Linked DNA regions of Homo sapiens. The protein of the gene in region 2 interacts with the protein of the main gene of each other region in a biochemical or structural test. Each region holds a gene or a part of one and is shown on either strand. Other genes may lie near its edges. The genes, in order: NID1, COL4A1 and COCH.

Region 1 (8,477 bases), on a different chromosome or scaffold from region 2:
GGTGTGGTGGCACATGCCTGTAATCCCAGCTGCTGGAGAGGCTGAGGCAGGAGAATAGCTTGAACCCAGGAGACAGAGGTTGCAGTGAGCCAAGATTGCAGTGAGCCAAGATCACGCCATTGCACTCCAGCCTGGGCAACAGAGCAAAACCCTGTCTCAAAAAAACAAACAAACAAACAAACAACAACAACAACAACAAACCCTTGGGGAATATTATTTGCAAAATAGACAACAAAAGGTTAATTAGCTTTAAAATGTAAAGGACACTTATAAATCAGTGAGATTCTCCCAATTAGAAAAAAGAACTGAGGACTAGAAGGACAATTGACAAAAGAACTTTAAGTGGCTAGTGTGCATTTCAAAAGTTTACCGCAACTTAAAGAGTGTAATTTTTTTTCTTTTTAGAGACTGAGCCTCAGTATGTTGCCCAGGATGGGCCTCAAACTCCTAGCTTCAAGCAGTCCTCCCATGTTGGCCTCCCAAAGTGCTGGGATTACAGGCGTGAGTCACTGCAACCAGCCAATAATGTAAATTTTAATAAACAAACACCACCTATGTAATTGGCAAAAATGAAAAAATAAACTATGCAAAGGCAAAAACATAGGTAAACGGGCCCTCTCCAACACTCCCGCTGGTGGAAGTATAAAGTGGTACAAACTTTCTGTAAGGCAGTTGGGGAGTATCTATTGAAAGTCTTAAATTTTTAAATAATCCTGAGTTGAAATTTATCCTAAAGATATTAATAAGGACACTGAGGGTCGGGCGTGGTGGCTCATGCCTGTAATCCCAGCACTTTGGGAGGCCGAGGCGGGTGAATCATGAGGTCAGGAGATTGAGACCATCCTGGATAACATGGTGAAACCACATCCCTACTACAAATATAAAAAATTAGCTGGGCATGGTGGCACATGCCTGTGGTCGCAGCTGCTCGGGAGGCTGAGGCAGGAGAATTGTTGAACCCGGGAGGCGGAGGTTGCAGTGAGCTGAGATTGCACCACTGCACTCCAGCCTGGGCAACAGAGCGTGACTCTCAAAAAAAAAAAAAAAAAAAAAAAAAGGACACTGATATTAGTATGTGGGTGTTTATTGGTTTATTGTTATTTATCACATCAAAAAACACATAGAAACACCCTAAAAGTTCATCAATAAATGAACTGGTGAGAGTTTATTGTCCATATAATAGAGTATGATACTATTATGTAGTTGATCAAAGTAATGTTCATATGCACATTTATTTAAATGGAAAACAAAAATACGGAAAAGTATCACAGGATCACATTTTTTGTTATATATATATCTTACAAAAATATATGTAAAAGTATTGTGTGTGTGTGTTTACAACATTTCTGGACAAGATTGTAGTGATGAGGCCATTATTGAGTAATGAAATTACTGTTATTTGTTTTTCTTGTGCCTTTATTTTCCAACTTTCTAAATGAAAATGTGCTGAATACAAATAAATAATAATGTAAGATAAAGTAAAAATAAATTTTCATTTAAGGTATTTCTTAAAAAGGGGGGTGAGGAAGGGTATTTAGAGTAAACCAAATCTGGAACTGGACTCTGCTCTGACGGCGTGACCTTTGCCAAGTTACTTCACCTCCTTAACCCTCAGTTTCCTGACTTACTCAATGGGCACAATAAATTCTACTACATAAGGTTATCCTGAGTTAGTTTTCCCATTTCCATCCAGCTAATAAAAGCTTCTTGCTGCACTCTCTCTCCTGAGCCTTCTCCCTTCTCTGATCCCCTTAACAAAGTGGTTCGAAGCAATCATTTAGCATCACCTGTTATTACTACCTGCTTAGTGACTAGACGCCCACTTATTTGCAAAAGCCCTGCATTTTCTGGAATTAGCCTGCTATTCCGTGTTTTCCACTTAGATTCACTCAGAACCTGGTCCATAAGGAGACGTATGCACTTTTGCATACACAGAATACACTCAGGAATACTTCTGTGTTTTCGTACCTCGGTGTAAGATGCTGAGCCCACGGCTGGGGATCTCGTGTGACGAATGTCTGCAAATGTTTGAGTAAGGAGATGACTTGGGGAGGAAAAGGGCTGGGCTATTTGGTGGAAATCTGAATTTAGATGAAGAGGCTTGACCATAATTGGGAAGTTCTTTTGCTAGCAGTTGGGCAACTCACCAATATGAAGAAAGCTCTTGAGTGGGACGATGGGAAGGCCCGAGCATAGCTTCTTTTGGGGAAGTTATCCGGGTAGCCAGGCCTGGGACGCTCCCCGCGCTCCGCCCTCACTTCTCTCTTCCCCCAAAAACAGGCATTGAGAGGCTCTTACTGCCCTCACGTGGCCCCTTCTGGAACTGTCTTTGAGGAGACCCGCCCAGATTTAAACTGAATCACGGGGGCTGGAGAGCACACACGCAGGCTTGCCAGTTAAGCTCATCTGTCCCCACTTAAGCTTCTAGCTACCAGGAAGCCGCTCTTCGAGCCTGTTTTCAAGCCTTTTTGGCCCTTCCGTCTCTTAAGTCCATGTTGTCTGAGCAAAGACCCTTTCTCCGTTGTAAGGAATTCTAAATCCTTTCGGCTGCAGCTTTCAGCAGCGCCTGGCATCCTGGCGGATGAGAAAAAGGGGAAAAACAGCAGCCCAACTTGAGAACCAGAGCTGGGCCGTGACGCTGCTGCGGGGGACTCTGGGTCCCGTCTTCCCCGCTTTCGAGACCTGTGGTCTTCAAATGTGCTCGATAGTACACTCCCTAAAAGAATTTTTGCAAAGTCCTGTTTTTCCCTGTTAAATCAAGTTTAGCTTAAAGCTACTCACATATTTTAAGTTCAGCCTAAAGGTTTCTCTGTGCCTGTAACCTAAAGGGAAGTGTAAATAGTCCCTCTCCCCCTTCACCCTCTCCTCTCCCGCTTTCTGTTTCTGCCTTATCTCTCTGACTCTTCTGCCTCCCTCCTCTGTTTTTAAGGGCCTGCCTGGATAACCCAGGATAATTTGCCTGTTTTAACGTCAGCTACTTAGTCATCTAAATTCCATCTGCAAAGTCCCTTCAGAGCAGTACAAAATTAGAATCTTGAAATCTTTAGAATTCGGCCAGCCACAACAACGATCAGCATTTTGCCAACCTTAGGTATCCAGGAGTTTTTGTTTTTAATTACAGTGATTTTTAAAAAACAGCTTATTTATTTATTTGACAGGGTCTTGCTCTGTGGCCCAGGCTGGAGTGCAGCGGCATGATCATAGCTCACTGTAACCTCAAACTCCCGGGCTCAAGCAATCCTCCTGCCTCAGCCTCCTGAGTAGCTAGGACTACAGGCACTTGCCACTACACCCGGCTAATTTTTAAAAGATTTTGTAGAGATGGGGGTCTCACTATATTGCCCAGGCTGGTCTCAAATTACTGGCCTCAAGTTGTCCTCCTGCCTCAGCCTCCTAAAGTGCTGAGATTACAGATGTGAGCCACTGTGCCCACCCAAAACAGCTTTATTGAGATATAATTCACATGCTATGTAATTCACCCAAAGTGTACCTGCAATGGTTTTGGGTATATTACATTATTAATTTTAAAAATTGTAAAATATGTATATATCATGAAATTTGCCATGTTAATAATTTTTTTTTTTGAGACAGAATCTTGCTCTGTTGCCAGGCTGGAGTGCAATGGCACGATCTCAGCTCACTGCAACCTCCGCCTCCCGGGTTCAAGCGATTCCTCTACCTCAGCCTCCTGAGTAGCTGGGACTACAGGTGCGCACCACCGCACCCGGCTAATTTTTTACATTTTAGTAGAGACGGGGTTTCACCATGTTGGCGAGGATGGTCTTGATCTCCTGACCTTGTGATCCGCCCGTCTTGGCCTCCCAAAGTGCTGGGATTACAGGCGTGAGCCACCGTGCCCAGCCATTAATAATTCTTAAGTGTACAAGTCACTGACATTTATTACATTCGCAATATTGTGCAACCATCACCACTATTTCCAATACTTTTCATTTTCCCAGGTAAGAATTCTGTAGCCATCGAGCAATAACTCTCCATTCCACCTCCCCACAGCCCCCGGTAACCTTTGATCTACTTTCAGTCTCCATGAATTGGTACATTCTAGATACCTCATATAAATGGAAGCGCATATATTGCTTGATAGTTTGTGTCTGGCTTATTTCCCACAGCATAATGTCCTGACGGTTCATCTGTGTTGTAGCATGTATCAGGATTTCATTTGTTAGGCTCAGTGATATTCCATTTTATGTACATAACGTATTTTGTTTATCCATTCATCTGTTGATGGACACTTGGGTTGTTTCCATCTTTTGGCTACAGTGAATGATATTGCAATGGACAGTAACACAGAAGCATCTGTTCCAGCCCTTGTTTTCTATTATTTTGGGTATAGTCCTAGGAGTGGAACTGCTGGATCATATAGTAATTCTATATTCAACTTTTTGAGGAACCACCAAGCTGTCTGTTTTCATTCCCATCAGCAACGGACAACGTTTCCAGATGCTCTCCAGTACTTGTTTTGTTTTGTTTTGTTTTGATAAAAGCCATCTTAATACTGTAAACTGGTGTCAAATTGTGGTTTTTATTTGCATTTACCTAATGACTAATGATATTGAGCATCTTTTCATATGCTTATTGGCCATTTGTATATCTTCTTCATATAAATGTTTATTCAAATCCTTTACTCATTTTTAAATTGTTTGCTTTTGTTGTTGAAATGTAGTTATATTCTGAATATTAATTCCTTATCACATATAGAGTTTGCAAATATTTTCTCCCATTCCATGGGTTGTCTTTTTACTCTCTTGATAGTATCCTTTGATGCAAAAATGTTAATTTTGATGAAGTCCAGCTTACCTGTTTTTTTCTTTCGTTGCTGGTGCTTTTGATATGTCCAAGAAATGTTTGACAAACCCAGTATCATGAAAATTTTTCCCTATATGCTAGCCCCTCAAGGATCAAAAGCAGCAATCAGTAATCAGAACCCACAACCTTGGTTTTTGGAAAACTGGGTCTTTATTGTCCAACCTGGCTCCAGCAAGCCACACTAAGTACCTGAGCTGCTGTCCCCACAACTGACTGCCCTGGGGCTGATCAAGGTGGGTGGTAGTCACCACTAAGTAAAGAGCTGAAATTGACCAAAACTTGCCAGCCTCCTCATCAAGCTTTCTCCTGGGTGCTGCAAGTGTTCCCTAAGATCCTGAATTCCAAAATAGTTGCATCAGACAGCTCTTGCCAGTTCAATTGTTTTAATGGAGGGATAGATTCCAGGAGCTTCTTATCTCCACCATGGAGCTTGATATCGTCTTTGAGTAACCAGATTTTATGGCCAGCATAAAACACTGGAAGTTTTAGCCCTAACATATGTAAGTTGTCTCTTTCAAGAAATTCACACTGGCAGGCTGTATACTGGCTCCACTGATGGTGCCAATTCCCTTCTCTGCAACAACTGAGCTCTGGACACCTCATTCCTGCAACTTCTGAGCCCCCTTCACTCTGTTCAACTCAGAGGCCATTCTCATCCCACCCAGGGGCCAGCATGAGTGGCACTGCCTGTTGGTGGCAGCTTAGAACAGACCAGGGGTCTCACTCCATAGCCAGTGCCAGGAAAGCATCTTTCTTCCTTCTGGAGGTAAAAAGAGAATTAAAACATAGCTTATCTCCAGAGCTGAATCAGAAAACTTTTTCTATTGCCTGCTTGTAGAATATATTTTCTCAATGAAAACAATATCCAAAAGGGTGGCTTGAAATCTATAATATAATTTATTTTTTATTTTTTTTTTAAGTTTTTGAGATAGGGTCTCACTCTGTTGCCCAGGTTGGAGTGCAGTGGCACGATCATAGCTCACTGCAGCCTTGGCCTCCCGGATTCAAACAATCCTCCCACCTCAGCCTCCTGAGTAGTTGGGACTACAGGTGTGTGCCACCATGCCCAGCTAATTTTTTTTTTTGATGTTTTGCAGAGATGGAGTCTCCCTGTATTGCCCAAACTGGTCTCAAACTCCTGGCCTCAAGTGATCCACCCACCTTGGCCTCCTAAAGTGTTGGGATTACAGGTGTGAGACACTGCACTCATTTTTAGGTAAATTACAACCCCTAAGGTTTTTTGTGGTTGAGAAACATACTAGCTCTCATAATACTGGGATAAGAGTTTCTGGGCTCCACAGGTTTTGCAGATTATTAAGTGGCTGTCTGTCTGTCTATCATGAATCAGCCTCCCAACATTAAATCTCTTCATTCAGAAAAGATAGAGGAAGATTTTCTTTTTTAAAAAAAGTTTATTTTCCACACTATTTGTACAGCTGTAAACTCAAGGAATCATCCAATACTTGTACAAATCTGGGAGAACAGTTAATAAGCACCTTCAGTGGTTTCCACAGTTTAAGAATTTACCATTAAAAAATTTTAGAATAAATCTAATAAAATGAATAAAATAGTTATAAAAATCATACAAAATCATGATGAACATTTGATATAGAGGGTTTAATATGAAACGATAAATACAAAAAGTGAGACTAATTTATGGATTTGGGCTACGTAAAAGACCTACATGGTCCTCGAATCTTGTGATTCTTGGGGCTATATTTGCCTCTCAAGACAAACTCCAATTATTCAAGGAAGACTTTCTTTCAATTCAGGTTCCAATGTACTGCAGAAGCAAGTGAGGACAAAGTCAGGAGAAGGTGGGGCAGAGAGGCTGAGTGTACTGGGGTTTGAGGAAAAGAGGAGAGACTCTTTTCCCCAAAGAGAGTATCAGGCAAATTCTTCCATGTTCTCAAGTATAAGTGGTCTTTGGCAAAATGTACCATTTTCTTTTTGGAGTTACTTAAGAGTTTTACTTATTGCTGTTCTTAAATTCCTTCCCCTACCACTTCCTCTTGGGCTTTTTTATTTCTCTTGTTGATCAATCTCTTTTTTGTGATACTTTTCATTGAATCATCTCGACTCCTTTATCCCATCCTTTACTGACTCAAACTCCTTATGCTGAACTTTTCAATCCAAAATTTCTATTGTTTTAGGACTCTGGGAAGCAGTTGATAAAAAGATAACACGAGCTACTGATATGGTCAGGAGATGTTTTCTAAACAAATTGTAGAAATATAAACATGAAATGTGGCAATGATCCCTTTAATTAGATCATTGAGCAATAAAGGATATGAACCATTAGTATAAATATTCAATTCAGTCTTTCCGGATTGTGTTGTTAGATAAGAATACATCCAAAAAGGGCCACAGATCGAGGGAGAAACCAAGGAGGGGTGAGGTCATGGTTGAGTGTAAATTGGTTCTGTCATGTGGAGGCCGGAGGTGAGGGACTGTGGTGGGACATCATCTGGTGCCAGCCCCATCCTGTACCTCAGATAGGTCTCCGTGAAAAGGAGGGACATCAGTGCAAGCAGTGGGGCTAAAGACCAGCACAGCAACAGAGACTAGAACCTTGGATGCAAGTATTTTGGGCAAAGAGGAATAATTAGTAATCTTTGGTATAATTTAAGGCACATCAAAAAAATCCCCTATTCTCAAATATCTGACCTACACCTTGAAATTCCTACCATTGGACATTCTTTTGATTTAAGCCTTTAACTAACAAATGCCAATATCCTACTGCTCAAATATTGACATTCTATCTGGGAGGGGCTGCTCATTATCATCCACCAAATGCCCATAGATCTCTAGGACAGGGTAGGTTTTGATGAAAAAGCAGCGCATGAATATTATAATGGGGGTCTTAGACAAGATGATGATGGTGAGGAACTGAGGAGTAAAACTATAGGACTATAATAAAGAAGAAATTCAGAGCACCAAAACAAAACATTAAGGAATGCTAATTTCCTCCTTAACTCCCAACTTTTCCTAGTCAGGCCCCGGCTCATAGGTCAAGGAGCTGACAGGACGGTGGGTACCTCAAAGCGAGGCTGAGCTCATAAGGCCACAGGGAAGGGTGCAACTCAAATTTGGGAGGTTCTGTTCACCACTGGGGGGCTAGTATTGGGAAAAGGTCCTAGGACACTGGGATGGGCATGTAATCCTCACTCAGGGGTGTATAAGTCTGTCTGAGGGTTGGGGGTAGGGGTGGAGGGTTCTGTCCTTGTGTAGGGGTGGAGACTTTTCTATTAGAGAAGTCCAGGGTGCATGTTTTGGGGAACAGTGAGGGAAAAGTTGTTGGGGCTCAGGCTGGGCTGGGTCTGGGCCTAGTGGCCACTCAGCCAGAGGACACTTTTCAATCTGGACCAAGTTGCTTCAAGTAGAGTGTTGCTGTGAAATACTTGGAAAGGAAATAAGGCACTCTTGTCTTCATTTCTGTTCGATACAGTCAACTCCCAAGGTGTTGTCAGGGCAACGGCAGGTCCTGCTCCCTGGGGTGGCCAAGCATAGGTGGGTGCAGCCGCCATTGTTCACTGAGCAGTAGTTATGGCCTGGAAAAGGCAGAAATCAGTTCAATAGCCCTCTCTCTGATCTGACTCCATAGCCATTTAAGATAGTGGGCTCCTTCTTGTGTGTGATCCCCCTTTTAGTTT
Region 2 (10,036 bases):
CAATTCTCCTGCTTCAGCCTTCCAAGTGGCTGGGATTACAGGCATGAGCCACCATGCTAACTTGTGCATTTTTAGTAGAGACAGGGTTTTGCCATGTTGGCCAGGCTGGTCTCGAACTCCCCACCTCAGGTGATCTGCCCACCTCGGCCTCCCAAAGTGCTAGGATTACAGGCGTGAGCTACCAGGCCCAGCCGGGAATGGGGTATATTTCTATGTTACTGAGGAATAAAAATGAGAATACATAAATATTTGACAAATTACCTAGGCTTACATTACTGGAAAACTGCAATATAGCAATAGGGGCCCAAAAATACATTCACATACACATTTGCTATACTGTGGAGATATACACAGCTTTGAGGACAAGGAATGGGTAAACATGACTGTTGCTACTCCTTATAGCCAGTTCTGCATAATTATTTATAAGCATTTCATAACTTACTGATTCAGAAGTAAATCAGCACCACGTATTGTTTTGCACCCAGCAAGCTTAGCTATTCTGTATCCATCCTTGAGAAAGTAGTCTGATGACTCTAAGATATGTCTCTGCTGCTGATGAGCAGTTCAAAGCTTTCCCTTTAAGGGAGAACATGTGTTGACTTACAGAAGAACCCCGCTTGCTCCAACATAACTGCAGAGGTCTGTCTCAAATCCCTCCTATTCATGATCTCCCCTGATATACTCTCTCTTTCTCCTAACGTGTGTTAGAGAGAGACAGAGAGACAGACAGATGGAGACAGATAGAGGAAACAGAGAGACAGACACAGAGAATAAAGCTCTGCTAATCCAGCTATTTGAATGAGCGAGCCACGTAAACACAATCCTTTAGCCATGGACATGGTTAAGCTAAAAATCAAACCAAAGATCCATGACCACCACTAAGAAGGGCTATATATTCAGGTGCAGCAAAGAGCCAAAGTCACACACACACACACAGAAATACACAAGGCTGCTGGTCACTTATTGCACCCTGAGATGTGCTCTTCTGAAGGCTTGTCTAAGTCACCACTTAGACTCTGTATCTGGATCAGGTCAGTAAAGAAAGATGGAATATTGCTGGTTATCTTTTATGACTTGAACTGTTCAACTGCAATTCCCTGTCCTCCTGCCAGTCCTAAGAGATGGCTGGGCTAGTTTTACAGAATTGTTCTCTGCAAAACAACATTGGCTTGCTTTTTACATTGAGTTTGTAAATAGGTCTTAAATTTAGGCATTGAGCCATAATTTCCAGCAGTATAACATTTCCCTTTTATGGTTCTTGGAAAACTGGATTGTAAAAAAATGTTACAATAGTTTCCTACTCTGATGCCAATAAAGATGTGGGTTACTGGCAAGAAAGAAAGAAAGAACTGATTTAGTGGGGATGTGGGAGTGTAACACACACACACACACACACACACACACATATATATACATACACAAAATACATACACACATAGACACATATGAATACTTCTGGCCAGAAAAGACTCCTTTAAAAATAAAAATCTACAAATCAATAACTCACAGGCATGCCCTGGAATCCAGGGTCTCCCTTGGGCCCTGGGACACCGGGTGCTCCTGGCCAGCCTGGATTTCCTTTGTCACCTTTAACTCCATCAATCCCAGGAAGCCCTGGAGGCCCCATGGGTCCCGGAAGTCCTAATGGAAGAGAAGAAAGCCACACATTTGGGGTTAAATATGCACAAGTGTCCCTGGGCTGTGGGGCTATCAATACTGCCACCCACGGCCCCTCACTGATACAACACTGGACCAACAGTGACAACCCTTGAGACAGAAATCGAGGCAGGTCCAGGAAGGAAGGAAGGAGGGAGGGAGGGAGGGAATAGAAACACTACTATCTCTGATAAAACACTGGACCGACAATGTGAACCCTTGAGACAGAAATTGAGGAAGGTCTGGGAAGGAAGGAAGGGAGGGAAGGAGGGAGGAAGGAGGGGAGGGAGGAGGGGAGGGGAGGGGAAGGAGGGAGGGAGAGAGGAAGGGAGGAAAGAAGGAAGGAAGGAAGGAAGGAAGGAAGGAAGGAAGGACAGACATAGAAATGCCACTGTCTCCGTGTCCAAAATGGCCTGCGGTCAGTGGTGCCCGGGCATCTGTGCTACCACTACGGGGGTCTTCACCAGAACCCACAAGTGGGCCCAAGTGCTGCGCTGGTTTAAGTCCAACGCCACCGACGGGGCACGAGTCCAGGCTTGTCCAATCATTTCCTTTCTTGCATCTCCCTAATTACTTAAATTCCTTGACAGAAAGGATACAAGAAAAGCTTTGACTCGATGGGGGCCAAACACAATTTCAAGCTGTAATAAATGCTGCAGACTTCTAAATAAAAAAGCCCAATTGAGAATTTAACTATTTCTTTTACGCTATTTCCTTTTGTGAATTCTGTCCCAGTCCTCAGCCCTGGCCCCTGGCGAGATGCCCTTACCTGGCAGGCCAGGCTGGCCCTGAGGTCCGCGGTCTCCTTTGGGCCCCTCCGTGGCATGGCCTGGGGATCCCGGTAACCCCGGCTGTCCCTGGGGCCCCGGAGGACCCATGAATCCTTGCTCTCCTTTGGATCCAGGAATTCCTGGGCTCCCGGCTAATCCTGGGAAACCCACCTCACCCTTTGAACCTGAACAAGAAAAACAGTTTGAGGTGATGGGAAACGCAGCAGCAGAACAGTAATCTCCAGCGTGGACGGCAGAGATGGGATGAGGCGTGCCTCATCCTGTAGGTACCGCTCAGAGGGAGCTTCCAGGGACACCACAGGAAACTGCAGCAAGGGCTCCGATCCCTCCTTCTCTTTAATAACACACTAGAATCCGACCATGGCCTGGCTGGAAAAAGAGCTCAGAATGCTAGGAACCCAGCTATCGTTTTCATACTTCTCACGAGACGTGTTCTATGGCAAAGGCATCTGAATTGTGTTTAAAGACATCTGCAGCAACTGCACTGCTAAACGAAAGCCTCACTCCATCAGCACATGAATGGGCTGGACAAGCCAATCATGTTATATCCATGCAGTGGGACACTACTCAGCCATAGAAAGAAGTGAGCAACCACTGGGCTGGATCTCAAACGAATTATGTCGTGGGAGAGTAGTCAGGCTGAAAAGACTACGAAGTGTATGGTTTTATTTTTGTAAACTGCTGGAAAATGCAAACTAACCTAGAGGACCAGAAGGCAGATGGACGGTTGCTTGGGGAATGGGGAGAGGGCAGGAGGGGGGGATTATGAAGCCACGGAGGAGACTTTTGGGGGAAGGCTTTGCCTGCTATCTAGAATGTGGGGATGTTTTCATGGTGTAGACCTATGTCAGCCTTATCAAATTGTCCACTTTAAATATTTGTAGTTTATGACCTGTCAGTGAAACTTCAATAGAGCAGGTTTAAAAAATTAAAAAGTAACAGCTTGTAGGAAAAAGAAATTCTATGTTTAGTTTTAAACATAGTATCCAAATCTTACCAATAAAAATGCCAAAATTCTAAGGTTATTTCCAAAACAAAGGAAAAGGGAATGAAATAGGGTCAAGACCTAAAGTGGTCATTTGGGATTCTCTTCTCCTGGGGATTCTCCCTGCTATTTCACACAGCAATGAGTGGAAAACGCAAGGTGCTGCGTAGAGTTTGTGCAAGGGCAGTGCAGCATGTCCAAAGGAGTGTGCGGGATCACATGGCAAGGTAGGAAAGGCAGGGCAGGAACAGCCCACAGCGACCCCTTGAGCAGGTGCATTTGCAAGGGGCTCTGTGTTTGAGGGATTCTGTGAGTTAAGGGAGAGGGAAGTGTCCATTCCCAAGGCAGCCCACCCGGCACCAGGCCATCCTTCTCAACCCAGGGGTTCCCAGTGTCAGACTACATGCCTGCCAAGGAAACACTCTGGGCTGGTCTCGGGGAGAACCAGGGGGTGGGAGAAACAACACCTCCGTGCCCCTGCTCCTTCTCAGCTGAAGTCCAAGGCCTTCCAGGGCTTTCTGAATCCTCCCACTGAGTGGGATCACTCAGCCAGCCCAGCCACGGGCCATAAGCATGCCCATGGATGCTGTGTGTGAGCTCCTGGCTGCGGCCACCTGTGGCTTCTCTTCAGTGTCGTGCAGCTCACATGCCTTGTATTTTCTGTGTCCCCTTTGCTTTCCCATGAAATGCTCAGCTCTCTGAGAGAAGAGACTGCCTTCCCAAGCTCCTGGCCAACTCTCAGCTGCACTTAGTACTGAGCACATCGTGGCTGCGCAGGGCATGTTTTTGTCTCGTGGTGTGTGCTACATACTGTCCTGCATTCACATAAGTATAACCAGTTCTAGAAAGTCAGAATTTCAATATTCTGATGACCTTCTAGGCATAAAAATGACAGGGGTCTCGCCTCTCTGCTGGATTTTTACAAAATTAGTCCAAGTAAAAGATAATTCTGATCATGAGTGTACTGCACGCCATTTTGATCCATTAATTAGAAGGGAACCACATGTGTCTTGCAGGCATTGCCCTCTGGGCTCAGCACCCATCCTCCATCCCGTTGCTGCCTGGCCAACAGGCATGGGGCTTCATCCTGAAGACACTGCCCCTTGTTCTGCTAATCAGGCAGCAGCGGTTGGTTGAAAAGGAAGAGCACAGTGAGCAAAGATTACCTTTGTCTCCTTTGGCCCCTGGAAACCCTGGGAATCCTCTTCCTGGTAGACCTATAAGATGAGGGTAAAATGCCACGTTTCTCTTTACTTAAACAATCCATCTGCAGGTACAACACAAAGCACTATCAACTCTGCAATAATACTACGTATATTGTGGAGTACATAGATATTAGTTAATTGCACCCTTGTAATAAAATGATATTCCTACAGTTATAAGATACCCTTGACTGAATGTTCCTAATTTAGTACTTTTTCCTAAGTACCTTTCAGCTCAGAACCACCACGGCATTTAGCACAAATGATCTGTGCAAATGAGTATTTGTTTCCTGCTGCCGTCTGGAGATAAGCAAATGGGATTCTCAGACAACCATCCACTAATTGCTATTCTCAGGGAGGTGGGGAAAGCCAAAGAGATTTGGGGCAGCAGATGCTGGGGAGATGACAAACGTCAGCAAAGGGCTTGAGGGAAGATTCAAATCGGGGGAAAGGAGTGCAGGGGTATTTTTATGAATTGTTTGTATAGAAAAACAAATGTATAGAATATAAAGTTATGGAATGAAAAAAATGAAAAGAAAGCCAGCACCAATAGCTGTGGATGCTCTTGGTGGTCCTCCCAGTGTCCCCCCAAGTCAGGGGTAACCTGCTTCAAATGGTGTGTTTATCTCTCTCTTGCATTAAATACAAATATTACTGTGTATGTGATTGTCATCATCACACCTGCACTTTTGTCCAAGTTATGGCCAAGTTAAAGCCCACCAGTGACAGGAGCAGACTCAGGGGCCAACCAATATTTCCAACCATTTCCCCTCAAATGGGGAAATGCTGGGCAAAGAAAAGAGTTTTGTTTTGCTTTGCTTTGTTTTGTCATAGCAACCACAAGGGAAATGGAAAGTGTTCTAACAGCAGGTATTTTATGTGTCTCTGACTCACCACTGAGAGCTCAGGTTATTTCAGGGGAAGATGCCCTCAGTATTTATGGGATAATAAATACCCCTTCCCTTCTTCCCCTCCACTCATCCCACTCTACTCCACACATCCACATCAGTGTTTAAGTAGTTGCAGGGATGTGCAGTCTAGGGGCCATTCTGTGCCCAGCTTTATTCACTGAACACAGGCAGTCTGCAGGTCTCTGGGAGTGGACACTGCTGATTCTGATAGGGAATGGGGCGTTGGGCCATACCTGGTTCACCCTTCTCTCCTGCTGACCCCGGGATTCCATCACTGCCTGGCTCCCCTTTCTGGCCAGCTGGGCCTGTGGGGCCAGGAGTCCCAGGAAGACCTCAAAGAGAAAAGTCACATCAGACACCCGCATAACCTCTCACAGCACCCTAGCTGCCATACAAAATGGCCCTTTGCTGACATCCTTTAAGGGAGCTGTTCCCTCCCAAGCACACCTGGTTTTCCTGAGGTCAGTTCTGACTTCCCTTCAGAAAGGACCCTGCGTGCTTTCAGCAACACCACCAAACCCTGACCCTCAAAAGCTGGTGACAAAAACTCCATGATGGCCACAAAAACAGTTTGGAGATTTAGGTCCTAGATCCTGCTAGTGACAAGACCTCAGAAAGATCCTGTAACCTGCACTAGACTCAGTTTGCCCATCTGAAGATGGGAGACAGGACAGCTGGCCTCCCTGCTCCCCGTCTGTGATGGGAACTCCTTGGGGCCTCCCATCCCCTGGCCACTGTTCTCTATGTGCCCGGGCTGTGTCCCAAAGAGGGCCCTCTACCTGCTTCTCCTTTGACACCAGGGATGCCATCCAATCCTGGGAGGCCTTTGTCACCTTTTTCTCCAGGTAGCCCAGGACTTCCTAAAGAAAAAAACAAAACACCAGAACATCCATAAGTTTGGGCTTTTCTTTGATTTCTTAGATTCCCCAAGTCCAAGAGAAGCCCCCCTCACCTACCTGGATAGCCAACACTCCCGGGAGACCCTTTAAGGCCTGGGGACCCTGGCATTCCTGGGATCCCAATGCTTCCTTTTTCTCCCTTCTCTCCAGGGCTTCCTGGGAAACCCGCTATCCCTTGATCTCCCTGCAAGTAAAAGTCAGGCATATTAACTTTACATTTGTCCATGGGCATGCATCTGTAGGCATGTTATAGATAATGGTATACATTTTGGTGCAATGAATATTGCATTGCAAAACTCCATTTCCAGATTTCTCATCAAAGAATCAAAGTCCACTTCTGAATGGAGAGGAAAACTTAAGAGCAGTAGAGCCAACCATCTGGTTTCTACCTGCCATTCCTCTTCGTCCTCCATCCTCTCTGTTTTATCCCACTGACAGCTGTCTCCCACCTTAGCCTCTCACCAGTCTCTAGATTCTTCCTTGGGGGAGAGGTAGTGAATACAAGGGGAAGGAGAGGCGACTTGTGCTGCCTTATGGGACTCCCTGTGTGTTATGGCTCATTGAGTGTGCTGAGATATTTGCTGAGCATTTCTCAGGCAGCATCTCCACTGAGCTGGGAGAAGGGGACCTTTCCACGCAGAGCGCTGGTTACCTTTTCACCTCGCAGCCCTGGGATGCCTATGCCAGGTGGGCCTGCCTGCCCTTTCTCTCCTTTTGCACCTTTGTCTCCAGGTAAGCCAGGTGAACCTTGTGGGCCAGGGATGCCAGGCACACCTTTCTCTCCAGGTGTTCCTATAAACACAAACAATTGAAACTTGATTTGGGCTTAGCTAGTGCTGGTATTACAAATGAAAAAGTGCCTCCACAGCCAGCCAAGAATGAGATACAAGAACGTGAATCCCCCACAACCAGCCAAGATTGAGATACAAGAATGCACATCCCTCATGTATCAATCGGCTCATGACCCAGAACACGTCAGTCACCCAGATCACATCAGAGCCACGCTAGGAAATGTCTCTCCCGTCCTTTAAGACCATCATGTTATAAGACAGGGAAGAAATACATTAACTACCTAGAATATTTACTTTCTCAACAGAATAAAAATGGATCTTATGTTCTTTATTATACAGCCAGCTCTCATCAGCCAGACGTCACAGGGACTATGAGGCGGGCAGGCCGGAGTCTGTGCACACTCGGTTCTGTGATGCATGCTGGTAGCCAGGCTTATTCACACATAGGCATGACCAGCAATCTAGATGCTTATATTTTAATTAAAGTGATAACAGCACCTGGTCAAGACTCAAGAGGAGATGGAAAGATGGGCTTCCCATCTGAACTCTCCCCCTTTCTGAGTGAGCTCTGAGGACCATCACCACCCAGCCCTTCCCGCACTCTCCTCCTCTTCCCGGCTGCTCTCACTACAATAGACACTGATGGCAAAGCATTAAGGCTAGTCCGGGATTGGAGCAGAGGAGTCCGGAGAATTCTTCTGAACTAACACAAAGGGCTCTGGAGCCATAAGCTACTCAGGCTGACAAGCCTGGATGGAGAAGCCGTCGTCTCTTAGGGAGATCCTAGACAAGGGGATGGTCACTTGGAGATCATCAAAAGTTGACTGTATACAGCCCATGTTTTATTCCATTAGATGGTGAGTTTTCTTAGCAATGGCCATTCTGTCAGCCAAATGTCATCCATCCCTGAGCAGGAGACCATTCAGAGCTGGGGATGTGAATTCATGTGAAAGACACACGTGCCTGGATTCTGTCCGTCTCAGCTGAAGAGGATCTCATTCTGCAGACATGCCCTACCAGTATCACACGCACACATGCTAAAGAATCCTCTTCTAAATCCAGTTTACCTGGCAAGCCCATTCCACCAACAGATCCTTTTGGTCCCGGAAGTCCTGGAGCACCTGGGGTTCCACTTATACCTGGATCACCTTTAGGTCCTAGAACCATAAAGAAAGCAGTCTGACAGGTTGACATCTACAGAAAGAGCTGGGGAACACAGGCCTCATCCTGAGCCCTTGCCACACTGGGGACCGGAGCTCCACACTGTACCTGGCTGCCCAGGCTGTCCTGCCTGCCCGTCCTTTCCAGGCACTCCTGGGGTCCCAGGGTCTCCTCGGGATCCCTTCTCACCAATTGGTCCAATTTGTCCTACACATCAGAGAAGAAAATAGCAATGACCCGCATTTGCTTGCAAGCAAGTTGCTGCAGAAACGCAGGTTGGTTTGGTTATTATTTATGGAGGACCCGATAACCCAGGAAAGGCACATTGTGGTTCCGAGCTTGGCCATGAGAAGCCTCCTGGACTTGCCTTTCTCTCCTTGGTCTCCTTTCTGGCCCTTCATGCTGCCCATGTCCACCTTATCCATGGAGCCAGGCTTGCCAGGGAGACCGACATCCCCCTTATCACCTTTCAAGCCAGGGTCTCCCCTGGGTCCTGAGGAGCCCGGAAAGCCATGGTCCCCTGCAGAGGAAAGAGAAGGCACTGGTGAGCCTGGGCCAGTGTCACAGAGGTGCTCAAAAGGCTCACGTTCTTGTTGACAGGGACAGCAGCTGGCAAAAAGGCTACAAAGCACTCATAACTTGTCCAAAATGGCATTAATGGCCAGTGTCTGAGACACAGAAGAATCCAACCCCAGGTAAATGAGCAGTAAAAAGCCATTTTCTACAATTCATTATTCGCTAATAACTCTACTGCATGTGACTTGGCTTTCAGGTTTAGATAACTTACATTTCTCTCCTTCCTACATATCTTTATCACTCTTATTCATAGTGCCCCTCAGTTCTATACAAAATAATAGAACAGGAATTTTATCATTCTACAAAACAAATGACCTTTTCATGTGTCATATTTACAGTATTTCTTTGTAAAAGACATTATTTTGGAACAACTTCAAATAACGATAAGAAATAAAGACGAAGCCTTGTAAACTTGCGCAGGTTGTTAATCTGAGCCTAAGGACTCGGTCCCTGTATCTTGGCATGGCTGAAGATTCCACCATTTCTCACAAGAAGAATCTCATCTGTGCCAAGAAGGAAAGCCCAGCTTCTTTCTGATTTGCTTGGCCAAGCACAGTTTCAACCCCATGTGCATTGAGCACCAGGAATCCTACTGGAAGAAGGGGGTCTCCCAGCCTTCTGCTTGATGTTCCTAACTTCTTTTGTAGGCGTCTTAAAGGGAAATATGATCTATGACAACTTGAGAATTTCCCAAGTGGCATCGAGAAATAGACACAAAATGAGCTTCTAGGGTTATCAGCTCCCCTACCTTTTTCACCCGGTAATCCAGGAGCACCCACTGGTCCTGGTGAGCCCGGCTGCCCGGGGGTCCCCATGACGCCCATTTCTCCCTTGGAACCTGTGGCCAAAGGAAAGGACTGTGAACATTTTCTTGCTCTGAATGCTGACAGTAAATGCTGAGTCATAAAAAGAATAAGGTGAGGCCCATGTCTTCATGATGGATCCAGGCAGAAGTTCAAAAATCACTTACCTGGAAACCCAGGAATCCCAGGAGCCCCCTGCTGTCCAGGAAGGCCAGGGAGCCCCGACTGTCCCGTTATGCCAGGGAGTCCTTGAGCCCCTTT
Region 3 (10,636 bases), on a different chromosome or scaffold from region 2:
TCACGCCTGTAATCCCAGCACTTTGGGAGGCCGAGGCGGATGGATCACGGGGTCAGGAGATTGAGACCATCCTGGCTAACACGGGGAAACCCCGTCTCTACTAAAAATACAAAAAAAAAAAATTAGCCGGGCGTGGTGGCAGGCGCCTGTAGTCCCAGCTACTCGGGAGGCTGAGGCAGGAGAATGGCGTGAACCCAGGAGGTGGAGCTTGCAGTGAGCCAAGATCGTGCCACTGCACTCCAGCCTGGGCAACAGAGCAAGACTCTGTTTCAAAAAATAAAAATAAAAATAAATAAATAAATAAATATTTATTTATTAATTGCTTTTAGAAATAGAATATGCTCATTATAGAAAGCTTGAAAATACATAGAGCACAAAAAAAGAAATGCTCTAAATCATATGCCCTAGAGATAATCACTATAAAATGGTTTTTTTTTTTTTTTTTTTTTTTTTTTGAGACGGAGTTTTGCTCTGTCACCGAGGCTGGAATGCAATGGCACGATCTTTGTTCACTACAACCTCTGCCTCCTGGATTTAAGTGATTCTCCTGCCTCAGCCTCCTGAGTAGCTGGGATCACAGGTGTGCACTACTACGCCTGGCTAATTTTTGTATTTTTAGTAGAGACAAGGTTTCACCATGTTGGCCAGCCTGGTCTCGAGCTCCTGACCTCAGGTGATCCACCTGCCTCGGACTCCCAAAGTGCTAGGATTACAGGTGTGAGCTACCACGCCTGGCCCCTTCAGTATTTTAAGGAAATATTTGACTGTATTATTTTTTAAAAACTCAGACTATTAAAAATGCCCTGCATCCTGTTTTTTTCATCCTTTAGTATTTTTAGCATTTTCTCATATCACAAATATTCATCAAAAATATTTCATAATATTCCGCTGCATGATTAGTCATTCTTATTATTTCTTCACTACATTACACACTACACTGTGATGAACATCCTTATATCATCTTTGTGCCCATCTCTGATTATTTCATCAGGTTAGATTTCTAAAAGTGAGGTTCTGACTTAAAGCCTCTGATATAAATAGTGAAATTGAGCCATGCACAGTGGCTCATGCCTGTAGTGCCAGCTGCTCAGGAGGCTGAGGTGTGAGGATCTCTCAAGCCCAGGAGTTCAAAGCTGCAGTGAGCTATGATGGCACCACTCTACTCCAGCCTGGACAACAGAGAAAGACCCCATCTCTAAAAAAACAAATAAATAGCGAAATTGCTTCCTAGAAAGGTGAAGTAGTTTAAACTACTATCAGCAGTGTGTAAGGTTGTATAAACAGTGCTATTACAAATATTAATTTCCATTTCATTTCTGTTATTTTTTACAAGTGGCTCTGCTCTTAGATTAGATAGAATTTTTTTGGCATGAGAAGAAAATTTAACTGTTTTAACATAATTTAACCATTTGTCTCTCACCCTTAAAAAAAATGTGTTCCTTGTTTCATTGACTTATGGTATCACATTTATACCTGAGTTTGAGCAAGTCTATTTCTTTGATTCATATGCTAATCCTTACATATTTTTTTCTACGCTGCTTTGATTATCACAGTTTTATTGCACATTTTAACATCCCATGAGGCAAATTCCCCTGCAGTACTTTTTGTCTTGTACTTTTTTCTGACTACTTTGACCCAATTCTTTTTGAAGATGAATTCTTCATTACCTTGTAGACTCATACAAAGTTTTGTAGTTTTTCTGTTTTAGAAAGACCATTAGAATAGGTAAACCATGTCAAGTTTATATGTATGTAAGTCAAAGAACAGAATATATCAAGGATACAAAAATGAGACTAATTTCATAAGTCATAATCTGGATAGTTGAAAAGTGACCACAAGTGAAAAGGTTTTCAACCCATGAAATCTGATTTTATGACCCAATATTCCATCAGGTATGTATGCAGAAATACAGTCAGTGTTCTACTTCTCCCTCAAAAAATCTTGAATAAAATGGCTACTGATAATGCTAAGATCTTAAATTTTGCACTAGGAAATACTGACTCATCTAGAAACTAAACACAACAGATTGTGCTGTGGTTGTTTATACTCAAAACGGTCTCTGCTGAACACAGAGTAGTTATATAAAAGTGAGCTGAAATTCCTTTAATATTAAATATAGGAAATGAGATCTCAAAACTCTTACAATACACATAATTTTAAGGTGCACAAATGTCATTGTCATTATAAGAAAAACTCAATATTGTAACTTTATAATTCATTTCACCTTTGTCCCTTTAAAAAAATGTTGACGGTCACATCAATGAAATTGTTTCTCCTGAACAGAGAGCTCTGAGTTAATAGATCCACACTACTTAGAGCCTCTGGGGTCCCACACTGGAACAGACCCTAGTCTCATACCCAGCCACTTCCTCATTTAGTTTAGCTACCTGGTGCCCAACTCTGCGGACTTCTGTTAAACCCGAGGCTCTGAGCCAAGCCCGATTTCAAGTTCTCCGTATAGTTTAGGCATGGACTTTGCAGCCAGACAACTTGAACTTAAAATGCAGCTGTGTTTCATCAGGCAAACTCCCTAAATGCTCTGAGACTCAGTTTCTTCATTTACATAATTGGGATAATTCCAACCTTATAGAGCTATGATGAAATGAGGTTTTACATGTGTTATGCTTTTGGCTTATTACCCAGAATATAATAAATCCTCAATATGGCAATTATTTGTTACACCTCTGAAATATCTCCAATAATTCAAGTAAGGATGCAATGCCTCAGTTGACTATGTACTATGGAATTAAGAAAGAAACTTGTGTGTTGTCTGGTTTTAAAACTGTTTTTTAAGGCATGTAATGTTGCTTATTTTACCTTTTTAATTCTCCCTGAATAACATTTTCTTTCTTCCACTCAGTGAACATCCCAAAATAGAATTTTACTTGAAAAACTTTACATCAGCCAAAGATGTTTTGTTTGCCATAAAGGAAGTAGGTTTCAGAGGGGGTAATTCCAATACAGGTAAGTAGACTTTGATACCTGGGATGTAACATAGGAGAGGGTTATCAGTGATCAGACATGTAAAACAGTATTATGCTATTTTATATGAGCAGATGTGAAATCCTCCTGGAACTGAAATCTTGGCTAGGTCTGCATTTGATCATCTGAGATAAATTTTCAATTTATAATGGAAGTATACCAAAGTGTTGATATTTCTTATTTTAAAAAATATAAAGCATGGTGATTTAGAATTCTCATACATTGGATTGACTAGATATAACATTGGAGAAGTATCTCTTTGTAATGCTAAAAAGAAGTGAAAATCAACAGACTTATCTAATGAATGCAGATGTGGCAGAAAGAATGAGTAGCACTACCGTTGACTCTGAAGAGAGACTTCTTAGAGGTACTAATCAGTCACCAAAGGGCTACATAGAGAGCACATGCATGGAAGTGGGAATCAGTTTTGTGTTTCTAACTGGCGATTGATGTGGGGTAAACAAATGTGAGGCTTCTAGGAGGTGGAGGGGGAACTAATATGGCTTGTGAAGATAAATAGGCCTGGTAGATAATTAAACTTTCCCAGCTGATGCATCTGTTACAGAACTGGGTTCTATATAATTCTTTTTTGTGTGCCCCGCCCCACTGCCAGTTCTATATATAATTCTTAAACTTTGCAGCATCAAATGCTACAGGGAAACAGAAATGTGGTTTGAGCAGTGGTAAAGGCTATTTGTTTGCTTCTTTTTCAAATTTAGGAAAAGCCTTGAAGCATACTGCTCAGAAATTCTTCACGGTAGATGCTGGAGTAAGAAAAGGGATCCCCAAAGTGGTGGTGGTATTTATTGATGGTTGGCCTTCTGATGACATCGAGGAAGCAGGCATTGTGGCCAGAGAGTTTGGTGTCAATGTATTTATAGTTTCTGTGGCCAAGCCTATCCCTGAAGAACTGGGGATGGTTCAGGATGTCACATTTGTTGACAAGGTAAAGTGGTGAGGGTTATCTTCTGTTACAGTGATGGGTATTCCATTTTGGACCTCTAAGTGCAGTGCTGACTGCCTCTTATCTAGATTAACTTGAAACATTCAGGATTTTCCAGTTTTTAAGAAGAAACAACTTTTGATCCTTTTGGATATCTTTTATGTGTCTCCCCCATTAGGCTGTCTGTCGGAATAATGGCTTCTTCTCTTACCACATGCCCAACTGGTTTGGCACCACAAAATACGTAAAGCCTCTGGTACAGAAGCTGTGCACTCATGAACAAATGATGTGCAGCAAGACCTGTTATAACTCAGTGAACATTGCCTTTCTAATTGATGGCTCCAGCAGTGTTGGAGATAGCAATTTCCGCCTCATGCTTGAATTTGTTTCCAACATAGCCAAGACTTTTGAAATCTCGGACATTGGTGCCAAGATAGCTGCTGTACAGTTTACTTATGATCAGCGCACGGAGTTCAGTTTCACTGACTATAGCACCAAAGAGAATGTCCTAGCTGTCATCAGAAACATCCGCTATATGAGTGGTGGAACAGCTACTGGTGATGCCATTTCCTTCACTGTTAGAAATGTGTTTGGCCCTATAAGGGAGAGCCCCAACAAGAACTTCCTAGTAATTGTCACAGATGGGCAGTCCTATGATGATGTCCAAGGCCCTGCAGCTGCTGCACATGATGCAGGTAAGGTCCTTGTTCTTTATAGGAGAAGGGAACAGAAAAAACGGTTCAGTGAATTTAGGAGTAAATAAAAATTTAAGCATTTATTTCATTAAACAAACACCTGTGGCTTTACCCAATATTAACTGTTAAAGCAGCCCTACTCATCTCATTCTACAGATAAGGAAGCAAACTTCCTGGAAATGACATTTCTAGTAAGTGGCAAGGCCAAGATCCAAACCCAGGCATTCTGGCTCCAGAGTGCACATTCCTAACCACTGTATTGTTGGGAGAATTGCCATGAGAACCATGTCACATTAAGGAAATATGCTTATACATATACAATTAAGGTGCTCATATTTAGCTCAAACTTGGACTATATCTCCAAATAGCCAGCTTATAACCTACCATGAATCTGCCATTCAGTAATTTATCCTAACTTTCTTGTGTATGAAACAGGTAATTGCTCTGTCACCAGGCTGGAGTGCAGTGGCATGTAGTGAGCTACAACCTCCAACTATTGGGCTCAAGCAATCCTCCTGTGTCAGCCTTCCAAATAGCTAGGACGACAGGCACATGCCACTGCCCCTGGCTAATTTTTAAATTTTTTTGGGGAGAGACGGGGGTCTCACTTTGTTGCCCAGGCTGATCTCAAACTCCTGGGCTCAAGCAATCCTCACACCTTGGCCTCCCAAAGTGCTGGGATTACAGGCATAAGCCACCACACCCAACCCTAACTTTTATTTTAGTCAAGTTTTGTCTGGCATGAGTTTCCTAAGATAAGGTCTCCCATAGACTTTACCTATCCCATCAAAATTTCCTTGGCCAGGTGCAGTGGCTCACATCTGTAATTCAGCACTTTGGGAGGCTGAGGTGGGCGGGATCACCTGAGGTCAGGAGTTCAAGACCAGCCGGGCCAACATGGTAAAACCCAGTCTCTATTAAAAATACAAAAATTAGCTGGGTGTGGTAACATACACCTGTAATCCCAGCTACTCAGGAGGCTGAGGCACGAGAATCACTTGAACCCAGGAGGCAGAGGTTGCAATGAACTGAGATCGTGCCATTGTACTCCAGCCTGGGCGACAGAGTGAGACTCTGTCTCAAAAAGAAAAAAAAAAAAAAAAAAAAACTTTTTCCCCCCCGCTTAAGATAATAAAAACACACTCTGGTGTTATAAAAGGGTATAAGAAGGGTTTCTTTCTTCCTCACCCCAGCCTTAATATTACTTTTGGCACAGGCCTCGTTCCTGAAGACATTAACGTAATGTGTTAGAGATCAAATAGGCCAACAAAAAGCTAAGATTCCCTTTCTGAGGATATAACTGAGTGACAGGAGGGAAGAATCAATGGACTTGTTTTTTTTAACACTCTTCTGTACCTCATTTTCCCTACTTAATTCCTAATGACATAACCTTTTTCCTTTCTACACATTAGTACCTCTGCCAATGTACTCACATATTTTTACAGATACTGATGAAAGATTATTCTTAAAACAGAGAACACATGCAATTTAAGTTCCACATCTAGCTTGTAAAAAGTATTTTTTATACATCAGCAACTAGCCTGTGAAGTAAAGACCTGTTTACTATCATATTCCTTAATACTTAGCTTACTGAACTTATAGTTAACAGGATTGTATTCAGGCTATAAAGTGATTAGGTTGATTAAAGTTCAGGAGGCTGGACTACACCAATATTGATTCGTGAAAATTATCCCTTAGTGATATTGAAAGTTGCAAAAGCCAGAAAATAGGGTAGGATTTTAGGGGTAGATCACAACAGTTTTTATTTATTTTCAGGGTCTTGCTCTGTCACCCAGGCTGGAGTACAGTGGTGTGATTATTTTTTTTTTTAACTGTAATTATATGCTGGGCTTGAGCTAAACAATCTGAACTAGAATGTAGAACTGAAAAGAAGTGAGGAAAACTGAGGGGGAGGAAAAAAATATTTTGACTTTTTTTTTTTTTAACCAGGGAGTGAGAGTCAGGAAAAGGAGACTGGAACAATTGGACATTGTTCCAAGTAGCTTTTACATCATCTAAACCTGCTGCATATCTTAGGTATTTACCACTCTGAGCACTGTATACCACTAGAAGGGGAATGAAACCTTAGATCTGTAGAGGAAAACTATTACAGAAACTCCAAAAGTTATAGAAAATTGCACCCAGCATTAGATAGATGGTACTCTACACTAAGAATCTGCTAAATGAGGCCAGGTGTGGTGGCTTATGCCTGTAATCCCAGCACTTTGGGAGGCCGAGGCAGATGGATCGCTTGAGCCCTGGAGTTCGAGATGAGACCAGCCTGAACAACATGGTGAAACCCCATCTCTACAAAGAAATTTAAAAATTAGCTGGGCTTAGTGGCATGCGCTTGTAGTCCCAGCTATTTGAGGATGGGGGTGCTGAGGAGGATAGTTTGAGCCCAGGAAGTTGAGGCTGCAGTGAGCCTTGATTGTACCACTGCACTCCAGCATGGGCAAAAGAGCCAGACCCTGTCTGAGAAAAAAAAAAAAAAAAGATTAAATGAAAACTTCTACAATTGGGATTGGGGTGAATCCAACTAATGTATTATTACCCTAAATGTACAGTTGTACTAAAAGCCTTCTAGTAACTAAAGTGAATGGAAATAGAATACCTCAATGAAACTGGAAGAAATTACTCCAGTTTCATAAGATCCCTCTTGGGCAGTACTTTTTAGTCACTAGTTTTGCTTTGGGATTATAGGCTGACATTTTCTGATTATTAGACAGTTTGCCAATATAAAGATTGAAATGGAAGAGGATTTTTCATTATCAGAGGACTAGTCACCATTCCTCAAACAATGCAACCTTTGAACACTTTTGCTATTTACTTATCCCATCTCTTGTGCCATTCTTCCTTGCTTTAATGGATTGTGACTCTGACTCCAGTATACTGTTTGATGCAGGCCAACCTCATACGGAAAATTTTCACCATCCGCATTTACTGTAGGATTTTAAAAAAGATACTGTGGATCAGGTTAAAAGTCTTCTTCTATTCCTAGTTTATAGGTGTGTTCTGTCATTAATGGATATTGAACTTTATCAAATTATTTCTTATCAGTGATGACTTACCTGTTAATGTGGCGAATTACAGATATAGCAGAGTTTCTGGTTTGGACCACTCTTTTGCCACTCTCGTCACAATGACTGTGAAAACTTAATTTGTTCAGGGGATTTAATTGTCCAGAAATTAGTAAGCAGTTTTCGCTGCAACTATGTAACAGTGTATGGAAAACATATAGACATAATTCCATATATTAGCTAGACCTGATTTTCAATTCACTTTAAAATGTTTTCATTGTAGGAATCACTATCTTCTCTGTTGGTGTGGCTTGGGCACCTCTGGATGACCTGAAAGATATGGCTTCTAAACCGAAGGAGTCTCATGCTTTCTTCACAAGAGAGTTCACAGGATTAGAACCAATTGTTTCTGATGTCATCAGAGGCATTTGTAGAGATTTCTTAGAATCCCAGCAATAATGGTAACATTTTGACAACTGAAAGAAAAAGTACAAGGGGATCCAGTGTGTAAATTGTATTCTCATAATACTGAAATGCTTTAGCATACTAGAATCAGATACAAAACTATTAAGTATGTCAACAGCCATTTAGGCAAATAAGCACTCCTTTAAAGCCGCTGCCTTCTGGTTACAATTTACAGTGTACTTTGTTAAAAACACTGCTGAGGCTTCATAATCATGGCTCTTAGAAACTCAGGAAAGAGGAGATAATGTGGATTAAAACCTTAAGAGTTCTAACCATGCCTACTAAATGTACAGATATGCAAATTCCATAGCTCAATAAAAGAATCTGATACTTAGACCAAAAGCAACATTCGTTCTCTAACCATTCTGTATTGATTATATAAGCAAAATGAAAAGAGAAACTTAAATGAACACAGCTCTTTAACATGGTTCAGGTACACATATTTTGACCCAAGTGGATATTTTCTTAAAACCAATCAATAATAGCTAGCTATTACTGCAGACTATAAAATCTGGATATAGAAAGGAGACCTGTATCAAACTGCTTTTGTAGTGTGTTTTCATAACAACTTATGACTAAAAATATCACACTGAATAAGAGAGCAGGATTGCCAGGTATTTTTCTATTTCTCTCCTTAATTTTATATGTATATAGATATATTTGGCTTATATTCTAAGTCACCTAAGTACTTAAAAGTTAAGTTGGTAAAGTATTTACTGACTGCTTATAAACATTTAAAGACAAAGACATTTCAAATAACTGCAGAAAAAATATTGTAGTTTGAATATTTAAGCAATAAAACTGCTAGTGAGTTATTGTAAGCTGGCTTACTTTTATTACTGCTAGTGTCTCCCCTGAGGATATGGTAAAAATTCATGTGGAAAGACCAATCTGAATTGTTTTTTAAATCATGTAATAATACCAAGAATATTTTTTCTTTGATTCAATTATTTATTGAGGCCAAGCACAGTGGCTCATGCCTGTAATCCCAGCACTTTGGGAGGCTGAAGCAGGAGGACTGCTTGAGGCCAAGAATTCAAGACCAGCCTGGGCAACATAGTGAGAACCCCCTCTACAAAAAAGAAAAAAAAATTAGCCGGGTGGGATGGTGCATGTCTGTAGTCTGAGCTACTTGGGAGGCTGAGGTGGGAGGACTGCTTGAGCCGAGGAGGTCAAGGCTACAGTGAGCCATGATCACACCACTGCACTCCAGCTTGGGTGACAGAGCAAGACCCTATCTCCAAAATAAAAAAAAAAATAAAAAGACACAAGTTTATCGAATACCTACTGTCCTAGGCATTATACACAGCCACTACCTGATTAAACAGTATAAGATATTTTTGAGTACTTGCTTCACCAGAAATGTTTTGTAATTGACATCATTTTTTACTTAAAAATGCTTGTGAAGTTGGTTCCTATGAAAGGAGAACATCAGGACTCCCTTAATGTGACTTAGATGATTCGCTTACCAAGGCCTCTCCCAAAAGACAGAGGTGCTCTATCATCCCACCTTGTCTGTCTTTTCTAAAGATAGGTCCTATCTCCTCCTCTCATCCACCTAAGCCCCCTGAAATGTGTTAACTGGTTAGAATAATATACTCCAGTAAATCTTCTGAGTCTTACAATTTTATACCCTGCATAAGAGGAATAAAAGGACTACATGCAGGGAGAAACAAACTGGAATTGACTTTTTCACTACATAAAAATTTGAATTTGAAAATAGAGTTTGAGAAGACAACCTCCCCTTTTATAAAATGCTTCAAACATGACTGAATCATGTAACAGGGATAATTTTAATTAAACATCATAAAAACTGGGTTTAGCATAGTATGATTTTTCCCCAGTAAGTAGACCAAAAACTCTCAGCTAGGAGTACAACCCCTTGGAAAATTAAGCTCTAATGAAAACCCAGCTACCACTCATTAGCCCTTTTAAGAAAGTGGTTTTTTCTTTAATTTTATAAAGGACCAAGTTTTGAGTCACCTGAAGTAACCAGGGAATAGCAGCAAGACAGCAGAAATCAGAACTGTAGGTTACTATCAATAATTATGTAAGTAAACATAATCAGGATAAAGGTTATTTACAGGAGACAGAGTAAAAAGGAAATACGTATTACAATCCAACTTAAGCAAACATGCTTAGATTTCAAATATGCTGGCCCATTTATAACTTAATGCATTAAATGCAATGTTAGTCTTCAACAGGTAAGTTACCTAGTTTGAAATAATGAGAAAAACAACATGAAATGAGAGGCAGAATATGATTAACTATTGAAGAAATCAACATATTAAGATTTGTATAAAGTACTATTTAATAGTGAAATTAATCTAATTTCCCATGTGTCAAATGGAAGCACACATAATGAAAATAAGACATTATTTTTGCATACCTTTAGTCTCTTCCAAATGTTTAATACTGCAGAGAAAAATACAACCAAAGGAGATAGAACAAAATAAACATATATACTAATTTTTATCCATTTCAGTTTTAATACATTCCAAAATACGTCAATGTTTATGCATTCCAATAAT

Evidence for each region.
Region 1: the proteins of COL4A1 (region 2) and NID1 form a complex in vitro, tested with the Homo sapiens proteins (one study listed by BioGRID).
Region 3: the proteins of COL4A1 (region 2) and COCH interact in a biophysical measurement, tested with the Homo sapiens proteins (one study listed by IntAct).

What each region holds. Positions count from the first base shown.
Region 1 is NC_000001.11:235,969,614-235,978,090, forward strand, and holds the end of NID1 (nidogen-1 precursor), read right to left. Parts: intron 8,376-8,477; coding exon 8,254-8,375; 3' UTR 6,217-8,253; downstream 1-6,216. UniProt on the Homo sapiens protein: Sulfated glycoprotein widely distributed in basement membranes and tightly associated with laminin. Also binds to collagen IV and perlecan. It probably has a role in cell-extracellular matrix interactions.
Region 2 is NC_000013.11:110,168,122-110,178,157, forward strand, and holds part of COL4A1 (collagen alpha-1(IV) chain isoform 1 preproprotein), read right to left. Parts: coding exon 9,943-10,036; intron 9,811-9,942; coding exon 9,721-9,810; intron 8,917-9,720; coding exon 8,764-8,916; intron 8,604-8,763; coding exon 8,505-8,603; intron 8,393-8,504; coding exon 8,303-8,392; intron 7,237-8,302; coding exon 7,097-7,236; intron 6,629-7,096; coding exon 6,502-6,628; intron 6,406-6,501; coding exon 6,325-6,405; intron 5,878-6,324; coding exon 5,779-5,877; intron 4,650-5,778; coding exon 4,599-4,649; intron 2,612-4,598; coding exon 2,426-2,611; intron 1,642-2,425; coding exon 1,508-1,641; intron 1-1,507. UniProt on the Homo sapiens protein: Type IV collagen is the major structural component of glomerular basement membranes (GBM), forming a 'chicken-wire' meshwork together with laminins, proteoglycans and entactin/nidogen.
Region 3 is NC_000014.9:30,881,693-30,892,328, forward strand, and holds the end of COCH (cochlin isoform b precursor), read left to right. Parts: intron 1-2,817; exon of another isoform or gene 2,818-2,860; coding exon 2,861-2,964; exon of another isoform or gene 2,965-2,982; intron 2,983-3,292; coding exon of another isoform or gene 3,293-3,349; intron 3,350-3,701; coding exon 3,702-3,928; exon of another isoform or gene 3,929-4,103; coding exon 4,104-4,620; exon of another isoform or gene 4,621-4,634; intron 4,635-7,450; exon of another isoform or gene 7,451-7,563; intron 7,564-7,691; exon of another isoform or gene 7,692-7,923; coding exon 7,924-8,099; 3' UTR 8,100-8,926; downstream 8,927-10,636. UniProt on the Homo sapiens protein: Plays a role in the control of cell shape and motility in the trabecular meshwork.